4 linked regions of the Homo sapiens genome follow. The protein of the gene in region 2 purifies or fractionates together with the protein of the main gene of each other region. This does not show direct contact. Each region holds a gene or a part of one and is shown on either strand. Other genes may lie near its edges.

The links. The genes of interacting proteins can lie anywhere in the genome.
Region 1: the proteins of CD19 (region 2) and CR2 purify together in Homo sapiens (affinity purification with western blotting, with the first as the bait; 2 studies listed by BioGRID). This does not show direct contact.
Region 3: the proteins of CD19 (region 2) and CD22 purify together in Homo sapiens (affinity purification with western blotting, with the first as the bait; one study listed by BioGRID). This does not show direct contact.
Region 4: the proteins of CD19 (region 2) and B3GNT3 purify together in Homo sapiens (affinity purification with mass spectrometry; 3 studies listed by BioGRID and IntAct, with this or other methods). This does not show direct contact.

The regions. Positions count from the first base shown.
Region 1 is NC_000001.11:207,474,828-207,478,327, forward strand, and holds part of CR2 (complement receptor type 2 isoform 1 precursor), read left to right. Parts: coding exon 1-389; intron 390-1,406; coding exon 1,407-1,592; intron 1,593-3,057; coding exon 3,058-3,243; intron 3,244-3,500. UniProt on the Homo sapiens protein: Serves as a receptor for various ligands including complement component CD3d, HNRNPU OR IFNA1. When C3d is bound to antigens, attaches to C3d on B-cell surface and thereby facilitates the recognition and uptake of antigens by B-cells.
Region 2 is NC_000016.10:28,930,702-28,934,770, reverse strand, and holds the start of CD19 (B-lymphocyte antigen CD19 isoform 2 precursor), read right to left. Parts: upstream 2,801-4,069; 5' UTR 2,771-2,800; coding exon 2,683-2,770; intron 2,426-2,682; coding exon 2,159-2,425; exon of another isoform or gene 1,861-2,158; coding exon 1,657-1,860; intron 1,538-1,656; coding exon 1,262-1,537; intron 1-1,261. UniProt on the Homo sapiens protein: Functions as a coreceptor for the B-cell antigen receptor complex (BCR) on B-lymphocytes. Decreases the threshold for activation of downstream signaling pathways and for triggering B-cell responses to antigens.
Region 3 is NC_000019.10:35,332,187-35,335,686, reverse strand, and holds part of CD22 (B-cell receptor CD22 isoform 1 precursor), read right to left. Parts: intron 3,141-3,500; coding exon 2,763-3,140; intron 1-2,762. UniProt on the Homo sapiens protein: Most highly expressed siglec (sialic acid-binding immunoglobulin-like lectin) on B-cells that plays a role in various aspects of B-cell biology including differentiation, antigen presentation, and trafficking to bone marrow.
Region 4 is NC_000019.10:17,793,965-17,797,937, reverse strand, and holds the start of B3GNT3 (N-acetyllactosaminide beta-1,3-N-acetylglucosaminyltransferase 3), read right to left. Parts: upstream 2,801-3,973; 5' UTR 2,732-2,800; exon of another isoform or gene 23-2,731; intron 1-22. UniProt on the Homo sapiens protein: Beta-1,3-N-acetylglucosaminyltransferase involved in the synthesis of poly-N-acetyllactosamine. Has activity for type 2 oligosaccharides.

The DNA of each region.
Region 1 (3,500 bases), on a different chromosome or scaffold from region 2:
TCACTGTCACCCTCCACCAGTGATTGTCAATGGGAAGCACACAGGCATGATGGCAGAAAACTTTCTATATGGAAATGAAGTCTCTTATGAATGTGACCAAGGATTCTATCTCCTGGGAGAGAAAAAATTGCAGTGCAGAAGTGATTCTAAAGGACATGGATCTTGGAGCGGGCCTTCCCCACAGTGCTTACGATCTCCTCCTGTGACTCGCTGCCCTAATCCAGAAGTCAAACATGGGTACAAGCTCAATAAAACACATTCTGCATATTCCCACAATGACATAGTGTATGTTGACTGCAATCCTGGCTTCATCATGAATGGTAGTCGCGTGATTAGGTGTCATACTGATAACACATGGGTGCCAGGTGTGCCAACTTGTATCAAAAAAGGTAAGATACTTGGAAGGGATAAGTTATGGGATGTTGTACAGAATAAAGAAAAGAGGTTTTGAATCTGCACTTGACATTCTGCCTAAAGAAAAGCATCTAAGAGCTAAGGCAGTTATATTGTTTTACAAGATATTTGCCTTTTCCTATCTTCTCACTTGATTGTTTGTTTTCTCTTTCCTTTCTCAGTATATTGAGCAATAAATAGTACATGAAAGGATAATGGCTAACTTCCAAATTGATAGCATCTCCAAAAATTGTTATTGTTATGACTTTAGTGTAAGAAAAATGCACATACATTTTTGGCAAATGTTTGGCAGTAATATTGCTAATTATTTGATATTTAAGGCTATGTTGCCAGCCAGAAAGAGAACTTTGGGTGTTCTGGAGAATTAATTGGCCCTCCAACCCATTGAATTGTCTTTCTTGTAATTGTAGTTATCATTTGGCAGCCTTATTCCTGTCCATGACTATCTACAGCAGAGGCTGTTTGGCAACGGTTGTCTTTGACCAGCACAGTAATCTTAAGTGAAACCCATCTTCAGTTTAAGATAAATAGTGAGCTTGCGAGCCACAAGACCCCCTTTGCTTCCCAGCAAGGCACCAGTAACTTGAGCTGAGCAGTGGCTGCCACTTTTAGAAGGACAGGGGCTCTCTGACTTGTCGTATCTGGTGGCTTCACTTCCTAGCTCTCGTAGACATTTGAAGGTGTAACCATGTCTGCTATTTAAAGGGAAAGGAAAAGAAAACTGTTGGCTGATGGATTACCATTGTGAACTGTATCCATTAATGTTTCATTATCTTATTTTTTAACACTTTTCTTCAAATCATATTGGCTATCAGTAGGAAATGCAGATCTCCATCCAGTGTTGCTGGTCTGGGTGGAATGAATGAATGTTTTTGGATACCAGTTAGTTGGCTTGTTGCTTCTGGCCTTCCTGTATCGCTATCACCCAGAGATAGTGCAGGCTATGTGTTCCTCTGTGCTGAGTTAAAGACCCTTTCTTATTGGTGTCTAAGCCTTCATAGGGTGTCCACCTCCGCCTAAGACCCCTAACGGGAACCATACTGGTGGAAACATAGCTCGATTTTCTCCTGGAATGTCAATCCTGTACAGCTGTGACCAAGGCTACCTGCTGGTGGGAGAGGCACTCCTTCTTTGCACACATGAGGGAACCTGGAGCCAACCTGCCCCTCATTGTAAAGGTGCTTTGTCTATTTTTTATTCTTATTTTTATATCAAATTTGTGCCAAATAGATATATTCAGTTGGGTACTTTCAACTTAAAATAGCCAAAGAAATGAATTAACTGTCTGATTACATTAAAGGCTTTAATTAGATTAATACAATCATTAAATATCTCAAAATAAGAAAAAATGTCTCAGGCTGTAGTCTATCTGGTGAATGACCACTTATGTAGTCATTTACACATAGAAAGTTGGAGTTATGTCTGTAAATTAAACAACCAAAGCACAGATTGTATTTACACACTGTAGTTACAGTTATGTTAAGTGTGTATTTGATAAAGTACCAATAAAAAGCACAGCAATCTTTTGAGAATATTTACTGAGTGTTGGTGGGATTATGGGTACATTTTTAATAAAAGTTTCAGAAAGTCATTTTCATTGTCATAAACAGTGCATATGAAATATGACTAGTAAATTAGTGTCTAGTATTCATTGAACACTTTTTACTCTATGCCAGACACTGTGCACAGCACCTGACATGCATTATTTCATTTAGTCTTCATGAGAGCCACATGAGGTTGGTGCCATGATTATCCCTGTTTTATAGATGAGGTTTCAGTAGCATGGAGAGATTTGGAACTTACCCAAAGTCACACATCTAGGAAGTACTAGAGCCAGGCTTCAAATCCAAGATCTCACTGTGTTAATCCATTCTCACACTGCTAATAAAGACATATCTGAAACTGGGTAATTTATAAAGGAAAGAGATTTAATGGACTCACAGTTTCACATGGCTGGGGAAGCCTCACAATCATGGCAGAAGGTGAAGGAGGAGCAAAGGCACATCTTACATGATGGCAGGCAAGAGAGCGTGTGCAGGAGAACTGTCCTTTATAAACCATCAGATCTCATGAGACTTATTTACTATCACAAAAACAACACAGGAAACCCCACCCCCATGATCCAATGACCTCTCACCAGGTCCCTCCCATGGCGCATGGGGATTATGGGAGCTACAATTCAACATGAGATTTGAGTGGGGACACAGCCAAACCATATCACTCACACTATTGATGACTACACTGAAAAGAAGAAAGAAATGAGAAAGCACGCACATGTATGAAGAATTAGAGAGTAAAACTAGAAGCAGAAAATAACAGTAATTCAGAATACTTCATAATATTACCAATTCGGCCCTCACCATTTCTCCAAGAAGCCATTAAAATTATCCATCACTGTTTGGATAGAAACTGAAGCAAAAAACACAAATATAATCTGGCTTAAATTACCCAGAGGTTATTGAGATAGAGGGCTGACAGTAAAAGATTGTGTCTAGGATATAGTCTTATCCTATTTCAGTGCAGCTTTCCTTACTGAGAGTGAAACAGGTTGGTTTTATAAATCTTTCTATTAAGGGAAATTTCTGCTTTCTTGGTAAAAGGCCAAAATATGACTGTGCTTGAATTAGATTTCTTTAATTTCAGAGGTAAACTGTAGCTCACCAGCAGATATGGATGGAATCCAGAAAGGGCTGGAACCAAGGAAAATGTATCAGTATGGAGCTGTTGTAACTCTGGAGTGTGAAGATGGGTATATGCTGGAAGGCAGTCCCCAGAGCCAGTGCCAATCGGATCACCAATGGAACCCTCCCCTGGCGGTTTGCAGATCCCGTAAGTACCAAGGGCTTCACCGCCGCTTGTAACTGGCTAACGGAGAGAAGAGAGTGAGAGTTTCCCTCAGCGTGGAGAGTCCTGGGTTTTAAATTGACATAGGTTTGTGACCAGTTGTATAATTACAGAGGAACTTGAAGTCAGTGGTCTATTCTAGAAAAAGCACAGCTTGGCCAGGTCCGTGACTTCTGCCTGTGATACCAGAATTTTGAGAGGCTGAGGCAGGAGGATTGCTTGAGCCTAGGAGTTTAAAACCA
Region 2 (4,069 bases):
TTGGATCAAGTTTGGAGTGAAAGTTGGGGTTGGGTTTGTGAATTGCAGTTAGGATAGCATGATAGGATTGCATGGAGAGAGAATTGGCAGAACACTGTGACCAGTTTGTTGGACGGGGTGAGGAAAAAGAAGGATGCCCAGGTTCTTAGCCTGGGCGAGGGAGCAGGTGGTGGTGCCCTCTGCTTACACTGGGCCACCAAGAAGACTATACTTGGGGAAGACATTGAGTTTGATTTTGTATCTGTTGAGCCTGAGGTGTCCATGGGATATCAAATGGCACAGGAGATGGCTGAGTATGGAGCCTGGAATAGAGTCACCAAGGCATGGTGACCCAAGAAGCCATTGAGAGTCAAGTTCAAATAGGAAAGTGTGCAGACAGGGATAAGAAGAGGGCCCAGGGCTCCAAGAGTGAGGAGTTGGGGAGGAAGGAAGACTCCACCCAAGCTGGTGGGCAGGCGCAAGCAATGGTAGGTGAAGACCCAGAAAAGTAGTGTCTTGGAAGCGAGGGAAGAAAGACTTGAAGTCTAGGCCAGGTGCGGTGGCTTATGCCTGTAATCCCAGTACTTTGGGAGGCCAAGGCAGGCAGATCACCTGAAGTCAGGAGTTCAAGACCAGCCTGGTCCAACAGGGAGAAACCCCATCTCTACTAAAAATACAAAATTAGGCTTGGCCCGGCCCTGTGGCTCATGTCTGTAATCCCAGCACTTTGGGAGGCCGAGGCGGGTGGATCACGAGGTCAGGAGTTTGAGACCAGCCTGGCCAACATAATGAAACCCCATCTCTACTAAAAATACAAAAAAAATTAGCCAGGCTTTAATCCCAGCTACTCGGGAGGCTGAGGCAGGAGAATCACTTGAACCTGGAAGGTGGAGGTTGCAGTGAGCTGAGATCGTGCCACTGCACTCCAGCCTGGGTGACAGTGCAAGACTCCGTCTCAAAAAAAAAAAAAAAATTAGCCAGGCGTGGTGGTGGGCACCTGTAATCCCAGCTACTCAGGAGGCTGAGGCAGGGGAATCACTTGAACCTGGGAGGCGGAGGTTGCAGTGAGCCAAGACAAGATGGCACCACTGCACTCCAGCCTAGGCAACAGAGCGAGACTCTGTCAAAAAAAAGAAAGACTTGGAGTCAGTGTTCTGTGTGGAAGTTGGGGTTTGGGGTGAGGCTGGGAGTAGCCCTCGGGTTGGGGGAATCTAAGATTGACTGGCTTCCACTTCTTCCCAGTACCCCCACACAGATGCCTCCCAGTTGAGAGAAACTCTACCTGGCCGAGCAGTGATCTCCAGGTGGAATGACATGGTCAGGTTGCCACGGTGACAATAATACTTTCCAGCGTCTTGAGCTGTGGCCCGGGGCAACAACAGACCCGTCTCCATTACCCACATATCTCTGGCCGGGCGATCGTCCTTCAGCTCTAGGCTCAGCAATGACTTAGGCCCCTTGGGGTGCACATGGGTCCAGGAGAGGGGGCCCCTGGACACAGAGTCAGGGGGTACCCCACAGGACAGCCAGAGTGTGGAGCCAGGGGCCATGGTGAGGTCTGGGACAGGGAGAGATAAGACAAGGAAAGCCTGATCCTCAGGGTTTCACCTCTTCAGTTTCCCCTCCCCTCTGTCTCTGGACCCCCGCTTCCCGGCATCTCCCCAGTCATCACCATACCCTGGCTGAGGCTCTGGTTCAGGCTGTCCCTCGGTGGGAGACACGGAGGCTCTCCCTCCCAGATCTCAGGGCGGTCTTTGGCCCACACATACAGCTTGGGGCTCATGAGCTTCCCGGAAGGGGAGCTGGGGCCCTCTGAGGACCTGTTCTTCAGGCCACAGCCCAGGCCACCTAGGTCCGAAACATTCCACCGGAACAGCTCCCCTGGGAAGAGACCCAGAACCAAATGCAGAGACACCCAGGAGAGGGAGAGAGATAGAGACTCAAAGACAGAGATAAATAGAGACAAAGACCCGCAGAGAGAGAGAAGACAGTGAGAGGTAGAGGGACAGGAAGCAGCTCATACTGAAGCCACGAAGCCCCAGGAGTCTGCCCACCTAGCTCCGAGTTTCGCCCTCAATCCCTCCAGCCCCTCTCTCCAGCTCCATTGTGGCCGCGGACCTCTTCTGTCCATGGTGGCCTCCCTTCTCTCCTCCTGCCCCTGCCCCAGCCCGGCCCTCACCGCTGCCCTCCACATTGACTGTCCAGCCAGGCTGCCAGGCCTTCTCAGAGGGGGGCCCCGGCTGGCACAGGTAGAAGCCCCCCATCTGTTGAGAGACGTTGAAGATGAAAAGCCAGATGGCCAGGGGCCTCATGTGGATTCCCAGGCCTGGCAGCCCCAGGCTGAGTTTTAAGAAGGGTTTAAGCGGGGACTCCCGAGACCAGGTCAGCTGCTGAGTGGGGCCATCTGAGGTCCCCTTGAGGCACTGCAGCACAGCGTTATCTCCCTCTGTGGAGAGAGAGGGAGAGAGGTGTGGGCATGGGTGGGGGGGACCTCCAAGCCCCCCGACTCCTCACACCAGGTTATAGAGCAGAGGACTCCAAAAGCTGGGAGTGGAGGAGCCGGCAGAGTCCTTCCAACCCTTTCCTGAATTTTACAAATAAGAAAATGGAGGCTCAGAGAGGGTAAGTTACTCAGCCAAGGACACCCAGCCACAACTCAAGTTTCCAGCCTCAATCCCTTCCCTTTCTGCCCTTTGGACATACCTTCCACCTTCACCACTAGAGGTTCCTCGGGCCTGACTTCCATGGGGGTGAGGAAGAGGAGGAAGAAGAGGAGGCGAGGAGGTGGCATGGTGGTCAGACTCTCCGGGGCACCCAGCTTCGCGCAGGGGATGCTGGGGCAGGCAGGGGCCTGGAGGGCACTCAACCATGGGTGTCTGCGGGGGCGGCAGGCAGTCCCCCCAGAGAGGAAGGCGGTGGTCACGCCTCAGGCCCCATTCTCCAGGAACCCTCCAGACTCACAACACTTGCCTCCTCCCTGCCACGCTGTTTTATTTTCATCCCAGCTCTCACTACCACGGGAAATGATCTTGTGTGTTTATTTGTTCATTTCTGTTTTCTGCACAAGAATGTGAGCCCCTTGGAGTAGAGACCGTGTTGTTCACCACTAATTGCAAGTGCTCTAGAACAATGCTGGGCACATAGACTCCTTCTCAAAAAAAAAAAAAAAAATTAGCCGGGCATGGTGGCGCACACCTGTAATCCCAGCTACTTAGGAGGCTGAGGCAGGAGAATCACTGGAAACCAGGAGGCGGAGGTTGCAGTGAGCCGAGATCACACCACTGCACTCCAGCCTGGGCACCAGAGTGAGACTCTGTTTCAAAAAAAAAAAAGAAAAGAAAACAGTCCTATACAAATATTGTTTGTGAAGATTAAAAATGACAATATGTTCAGCACTATTAGCCCAGTGTCCAGCACATCATAAGCCCTCAGTTAATGAGATACAGCTTCAATTAATGCCTAAGAGCTCAAGTCATACTGCCTCAGTTTAAAACCAGGCAAAAGCCAGGCACAGTGGTACACGCCTATGGTCCCAGGTCCTTGGGAGGCTGAGGTAGAAGGATCGCTTGAGCCCAGGAGTTCAAGGCTGCAGTGCACCATGATTATGCCTGGGAATAGCCACTGTGCTCCAGTCCGGGCAACACAACAAGACCCTGTCTCTAAAAGAAAAATTGTTTTAAAAGAACCCAGGAGTTCTAACTCCTAAATCTGTTCTTATTCTGCCCCATGCCTCTCCTCTCTGTCTCTCTCTTTCTCTGTCACTCTCTATGTGCCTCTGTGTCTTTTTCACTGCTGCAGGGACTCAGAAAAAGAATTCAGGGACCCAAGAGACCCACTTTCTCAGTGGCTGATTCCCAGGCCCATCTCACCAGGCTGTGACTTCCTGTTTGCTGTGGGCAAGCCCCAGGGGACCCTCCCTACAGGTGGCAGGGCCTCCACTTCCCTTTGGCCAGTTGAGGCGGCTGGGAGGCGGAAGAATGAGGCATGAATGAAGGGGAATGAAGGGGGCGAGTAGCAGGACTCAATCTGCCTTTCATTCAACAAAATCTCTCTAATCCCCTCATTAGCTACCCAGCTGCCCAGACTGGCT
Region 3 (3,500 bases), on a different chromosome or scaffold from region 2:
GAGACAGGGTTTCGCCATGTTGGCCAGGCTGGTCTTGAACTCCTGACCTCAAGTGATCCTCCCGCCTTGGCCTCCCAAAGTGCTGGGATTACAGGTGTAAGCCACCACACCCGGCCTCTTTTTTTCTTTAGAGACAGGGTCTTGCTTTGTCACCCAGGCTGGAGTGCAGTGGCGCAATCCTAGCTCACTGTAGCCTCAACCTCCTAGGCTCAAGCAATCCTCTCACCTCAGCCCCCTGAGTAACTGGGACTACAGGCATGTGCCACCACACCTAGCTAGTTTTTTAAACATTTTGTAGAGACAGGGTCTTGCCATGTTACCCAGGCTGGTCTCAAACTCCTGGGCTCAAACGATCCTCCGATCTCAGCCTCCCAAAGTGCTGGGGTTACAGGCGGGAACCACTGCACCCAACGCAGTCCTGCTTTTCTCCACTTTGAATCACTTTTGCTCACCCGAAATCCCCTCTGAAAGGCCTTGACCACACTAAGCCTCCTTGGGAACTGTGATCTACTTTTCTTTCATGCTCATTGCCGGATGTCTGCTTTCTGAATGATTGCAAAGTTCTATTCCCACCACCTCACCACCTCTTTTTTTTTTTTTTTTTTTTTTGAGACAGAGTCTCGCTCTGTCGCCCGGACTGGAGTGTAGTGGCGTGATCTCAGCTCACTGCAAGCTCCACCTTCCGGGTTCACGCCATTCTCCTGCCTCAGCCTCCTGAGTAGCTGGGACTACAGGCGCCTGCCACCACGCCTGGCTAACTTTTTGCATTTTTAGTAGAGACAGGGTTTCACTGTGTTAGTCAGGATGGTCTCGATCTCCTGACCTTGTGATCCGCCTGCCTCGGCCTCCCAAAGTTCTGGGATTACAGGCGTGAGCCACCGTGCCCGGCCTATTCCCACCACCTCTAAGTGAATTTTATCAGTTTAGTTCACGGACTTTTCAGCTTTGACAAACTTGTGTTACTTTCATGGCTTCCTTCAGTATTGCAGCCATCCACGCACCGCATTCCTTTAGTGGAGTGGGTCTGTGTGCACCCAGCCTCAGCTCTCCCCAAGGCTGGACCACCTCCTTCAGACAGCGGGGTCTGAAGTTGCATTGCTCACCCCAAATTTAAGGCTGCTCAGAACTGCCCATCCGGGAAACGGTGTGGAACGGAGTGACCACACTCCCTGTGGCAGGGGCCCCCCACACCTGTGTTTGATGGGTCAAAGCCACCCCTACATGTGCAGTGCTATAACTGAACCTATGTTATAAAAATTATAAGATGTTCGTTTTACTTCTTTTCTTTTCTCTTTGTCCTTTCCTTCCTCCATGCATGATTAGTTACATTTGGTCATTTCAGTAGCAGGTAACCATTAATTCACTCATAATTGTTTAACTTACATCCTGACTCCCTGGCAGCTGCCTGCAAGATAAATGAACTTGTCTCTCTTTCAAAGAACAATGATCCTTAGGTCACACAGACCTCCTTGATGACATCCAGAAATTTGATGAGCCGAGGGGCACAACAGCTTTGACGATCGGGAGGTCACCTCCTGCACACCTACTTTACTCATAAAAGCCCCCACTAACGCTCAAAGTCAGGTCAGATTTGAGAGTTTCTCTCTTCTGTCCCCTTGCTTTGGCTAAATTAAATAATCCTATCTCAGCTTCTAAGCACTGAGGTGTCAGTGTTTGGCTGACTACGCATCGGGAGCTCAAACCTGGCCTTTGGGGTTCAACAACAGTGTCATCTGACCTTGAAGAGCTCATGAGAACTTGCCATGAACATTAACATGCTGGGAGATTTCACTGGAAAATCTAGATTTCCATCGTCTCTTGAAAAATCAGAAGATCAGGCCGGGTGCGGTGACTCATGCCTGTAATCCTAATGCTTTGAGAGGTTGAAGCAGGAGGATTGCTTGAGGCCAGGAGTTCAAGACCAGCCTGGCAACATAGCAAGACCCATTTCTACAACAAATTAAAAAGTTAGCTGGGCATGGTGGCATGCACCTGTGATCCTAGCTACTTTGGAGGTGGGAGGATTGCTTGAACCCGGGAGATCAAGGCTGCAGTGAGCTGAGATCGCGCCACTGCACTCCAGCCTGGGTGATGACAGTGCGAGACCCTGTCTCATAAAAAGGGAAAGGAAGGGGAAGGGGAAAAGAAGAGGAAAAAAAGTAAAACAAACATTTTATGATTTTTATAACACAGGCTCAGTTATGGCACTGCACATGTAGGGGTGGATTTGACCCATCAAACACAGGTCTGGGGCCTCTGCCCTAGGGAGTGTGGTTACTCCGTTCCACACCCAGTTTCCTCTATAGGGAGCTCTGAGCAGCCCTAAGTTTGGGGTGAGCGATGCAGCTTCAGACCCCAATGTCTGAAGGGGGCGGTCCAGCCTGGGGGAGAGCTGAGGCTGGTTACATGCAGACCCACCCCACTAAAGGAATGCGGTGCTTGGATGGTTCCAGTACTAAGGCCAAACACGAGTTTGTCACAAAAGCTGAAAAATACATGGTGAGAAAGAAAGAGGGAAAGATCAGGAGATCCGATAACTTTGGAATCCAGGTCCCAGAGGGGCAGGAACTGAGGGTCAGATGGGACATCCGAGGTCCCGCAGCTCTGTCTAGTGCTGCTGCATCGCCATCGTCATCCGCTGGCGTCCCCTGCCTGAGCTCTGCAGGAAGCTCGGTTTGTGAGCTCTGTGCCAGGAGTCAGGTATTTCCTGCCTCCCACTCACCCCTGCCCAGAGCAGAGGACCCGCTCCCCGAAGGCCTTACCAGAGACATTGAGGTGTATTCGTTCCATCCATTTCTCAGTCTTGGACTCCATCCTCAGCCCCAGCTGACCACTGTCATTGAGGTGCACCGGGTGGATACTCAGTGTGCAGTTCTTATTCTTGTCTCCCAGGAATTGCACCCTTTTCTGCTCAGAAGGAACCTTCCCATCCTTTGTGCTTTCATAGAGTCTTGTCCCATCAAACTTCGAGGTGTTCTTGTTATACTCAGGATTGTGGAACAGGATGAAGCTTTCCAGGTCACCATCTAGGGCTCTGTAGGTGCAGGGGATCCAGACGCAGGCCCCCTCCCAGGCGTAGAGGGTTTCAGGGTGCTCAAAAACCCATTTACTTGAGTCAGAGAAAGCCAAGTATTCTAGAACTCACCACAGTGATCAGAAAGCATTACTAAGGGGGCATGAGAGCCTTCTTTTAAAAGTTATTTTTTATTTTAAAATTTGTTTAATTTTTTATTCTTTTTAGAGATAGGGGTCTTGCTATGTTGTCCAAGCTGGCCTTGAACTCCTGACCTCAAGTGATCCTCCCACCTCAGCCTCACAAAGTGCTGAGATTTCAGGCATGAGCCACTGCACCCAGCAGAGAGCTTTCTAAAGACTAAAGAATTCCCTCTGAAGATAGTGGGAGAAATACAGAGATACACAAAGACAGCAGGATGCAATGAGAGAAGTGTATGTATATATGGGAAACATATATATTTGTATGTACATTTATCTATACACAC
Region 4 (3,973 bases), on a different chromosome or scaffold from region 2:
GTGGTTCCTCACCAGTTCTTACCAGTTTGGGTTTCCCAGTAATGATAGGCTGGTCCCTTTTTACAAGGAGCAGGAGTTGCTTTTGCAAACAGAAGGGGAAGAAAAGAAGAAGAAATAGCCCAGTAAATCCTTTAAGTTCACAATGGCCGGACCCTGCTTTAGTGAAACCATGTGTACTAGTGAGTTCTCTGTCAATATATACTCAATATCTGCACCAGGGAGTGCCTGGGTATGGAAAAAGGGGTGGGGTTGGGCACGGTGACACATGCACTTTAGACTTTGGTGTCCCGGGTTTCTAGGTCCCGAGGCTCTGTCATGGATGACTAATTGTATGTCATCCATGCCAGCCCTACCCCATTGCAGGAACTGCCTGGGGCACCTATGTGAGACTGGAAAGGGGCCCCTGAATAACACCAGCCCTGGCCCAGTGGAGTCTCAAAGGGCATCTTTGGGCTCACTCCATAGATGGGGAAACAGGCTGGGAAGCCAGGCCGTGCATCGCAGTTCAACCTCAGACCCTTCCCACAATCCAGGAGTGATGGGGGAACTGAGGTCTCCTGGGCCCCTCCTCTGGGGACTTCCTGGACCCCCACACCTTCAGGCTGGTCAGAGCTCTTCTCCAAGTCTTGTACTTAGAGCTCAGAAATATTCATGATATTATTTCTGTGTGCAAAGATACATGCTATAAATGATAACATAATGAGCTGCATAATTAGGACTAGGATCAATATGCCAGGTCCTGTGTGCAGCCTGGCCACCATCTGTCCATCTAAACTCTATATGTGTGCTGAGAAGTAGGGCTGCATTAGCTCCATTTTTATGGATAGGAAAATTGAGGCACAGAGAGGCCTAGAAATCCACCTAAGAAAGGTTGGGTGGGAGCCTAGTTCCTGTCTTTAACTCCCAGCTGATGAGATTTCCTTTAGTTTGCCACGTTGGTAGTGACCTCACCATCATGAGGAGCAATCAAGGCAAGCCAGATTCCCACCAGGAAGAGGGTCCACAATAGGCATCCTCCCTGGCTCATGGGGTTGGGGGAGTGAGCAAATTCCTGCTTGCTCTGGGCCTCAGAGGCTGGTGGCAGGAGGAAATGTCACTCAGTGAGCCCTTACTTGCTCCTCCTGGGCTGACCTGGCTTGTCTGGATTCCTGAACTCTGGCCTGGAACAGAGAAGCACCAAGGCCCCCTTTTGGTTCTCCCACACCCAGAGCACCTGCCAGGAAATGCCACACCCTAGGGGTGAGAGTGAGGGAGGGTGTCCAGGCTGGACTGAGCAAACACCCAACTGCTCACCTAGGCCATATGGGGGCCCAGCTGCCTGACCTGGGGGCCACACCTCTTCCTCCTGACACCAGCCCTGCCTGGTGTCACCTTGAGAACAGGCCAGTGGGAGGAAGTGATGGCCCCCAGGGCTGGCCCCAGACCTAGACGGCCAGGTGGCTTCCCATGGGCCCTGAATCCCAGATCTGGACTGCAGGAGTCCCCCGCCCAAGTTGAGGGGCGACCTCAGTTTCCTCTTGAGAAGTGTCCATTTAAAAAAATCAGAGCTGGGCATAGTGGCTCATGCCTGAAATCCCAGCACTTTCAGATGCCAAGGCAGGAGGATTGCTTGGGCCCAGGAGTTTGAGACCAGCCTGGACAACATAGTGAGACCCCGTCTCCACACACAAAAAAATTTTAAAATTAGCTGCCTGTGGTGTGCACCTGTAGTCCCAGCTACTCGGGAGGCTGAGGTGGGAGGATCACTTGAGCCCAGGAGGTTGAGGCTGCAGTGAATACAGTGCATGGAGCCACTGTACTCCAGCCTGGGTGACAAAGTGAGTCCCCCACCTCTACAAATAAAACAAACAAACAAAAAGTTTAAATCTGACCCAGAGGAAAAGATGGTCGGGATTCTTGGAACAGGAGTGAATCTGAACAGTGGCTACAGACATAATTAATATAATTATGATGACAGCTGACTGTCCCTGGGCACCCACTGAGTGGCCACAGCTCCTATCCACTCAACTCATCCTCGCCAAGGTCCCATGCCATGAGACCCCCCCTTAACACACAGGGAAACTGAGGCTCAGAGACCTAACGCCAGTCACGCAAGGGCCCCCAGTGGCCAGCAGTACACCTCATCACAAAAATTTCCTTTGACTAAACGCTTCGGGCATCCTCATCCCAGCTGGTTCATTGTTCCACCTCACGGAGGGGAAACTGAGGCCGGTTCAGCAATGTGTCCATGCCACGCAGCCAGGGCCCCTGGAATGCCGCCCAGCCACCTGGCAGGGCCTGCAGCACCGGAACCGCAGGGAGAGACTGGGGGTCACCTGCAGTTCCCAAACCCAACCGGGGACCCCAGCGCTGGCTTGCCCAGATACTCCCAACCAAGGGGCCAATAATCTCAACAACACAGGTAACAGTAACAGCCAAGTCTGACTAAGCGGCATCCGCCTCGGGGGTCTGATCCCGCCCAATCTGGGAGGGGCGCCGGGGTCCCGGGTCGCCAGCTGTGGGGGAGGCTTCCTCCCCGACCCAGGTCCGAGCTGGCCTTGGGAACGCCGGAGACAATTACGGATGGGTGAGGGCAACCGGGTTCTCGAGACTCGGGGCTCCCGAATGTTCCCACATCTGCAGGGTATGCGCGGTGGAGACCGGCAGGGGCTTCTCCAGAGCCACAACTTCCCCACCCCCAAACCCCCACCACTGGGGTCCGCCAGATCCTCCGGGGGCTGCCGACACTCACCCCCAGACGACAGTCCCGCCTCTGCCCCTCTACCTGCTCCTCTCAGCTCGCGAGCCGAAGAAAGAGTTTTTACCTGAGCCAGAGCTCCCGCCCCTCTCCCGCTTCCTCCCTCCCACCGGGCCTCACGCCTTCCTGCCTCCCTCCGCCTTGGCCGCTTGCCAGTCCCCCTCTTCCCAGCTCGGCTGAGTTTCCTGGTGGCCCAGGCGAAGTTCTCTGCCGGCTCCTCCCTCCCCGGCCATGCCTCTTCCCCTCTCCGGTCCCGGCTGCCACCTCTGCCATCCCGCTCTTGCCACCCTCGCCCCTCTCGGGGCTCACGACCCCACCTTGGGTCTGGCCCGCTGCTAGGGAATGAGCTCCCCGTGGCTGGAGATGAACAAGCAGCGCCTTGCGGGTTCCTGGCACAGAGCCCGGTCAGCGTTGGCCCACGTGTGTTCCGTGAAGAAATGATTGGATAAGCCCATGGCGATAAGGAGGGAGGGAGGCAGGTTAAACCTTGCGGCACCTCTGCTCTCTGCGGGGAGTTCAAAGATTCCTGAAGCTGGGGTCGGCGCAGTGGCTCACTCCTGTACTTCCAGAGGCCGAGGGGGGCGGATCGCTGGAACCCAGGAGTTTGAGACCAGCCTGGGCAACATAGTGAGATTCCATCTCTATATTGAAAATAATTCCAGGACCCGAAAACCTACGATGTGCCCCCAGACATCCAGATGCCACCTGCTGGCATTTGGAAGGGTTCTGGAAGTCAACAATCAGACAGATTTGTAGTCTTTTCTTTTTCTTTTTTTCTTGTTTTGAGAGACAGGATCTCGCTTTGTCACCCAGGCTAGAGTACAGTGGTGTGATCTCCGCTCGCTACAATGTCGACCTCCCCAGTTCAAGCAATCCTCCCACCTCAGCCTCCCGAGTAGCTGGGACTACAGGCACCCGCCAGCATGCCTGGCTAATTTTTGTCATTTTTCTAGATATGGGGTTTTGATATGTTGCCCAGGCTGGTCTTAACTGTGGGCCTCAAGTGACCTTCCTGCCTCAGATCCCCAAGGTGCTGGATTATAGATGTGAGCCACTGCACCTGGCCTCAGATTTGTAGATTTTTAGGGTTGGGTTGGCTAGGATTCGAACCCTGCCCTGTGCTGCCTCTGAATCTCTAGGAGATTCTAGCCTGGACCCAGCGTTGGGAGCTCTGGGGTTGGGGAAGTCCAGGTGTGTGAGCTGGGCTATGGTTTCAGGAAACCCCTCCTTCCTCCT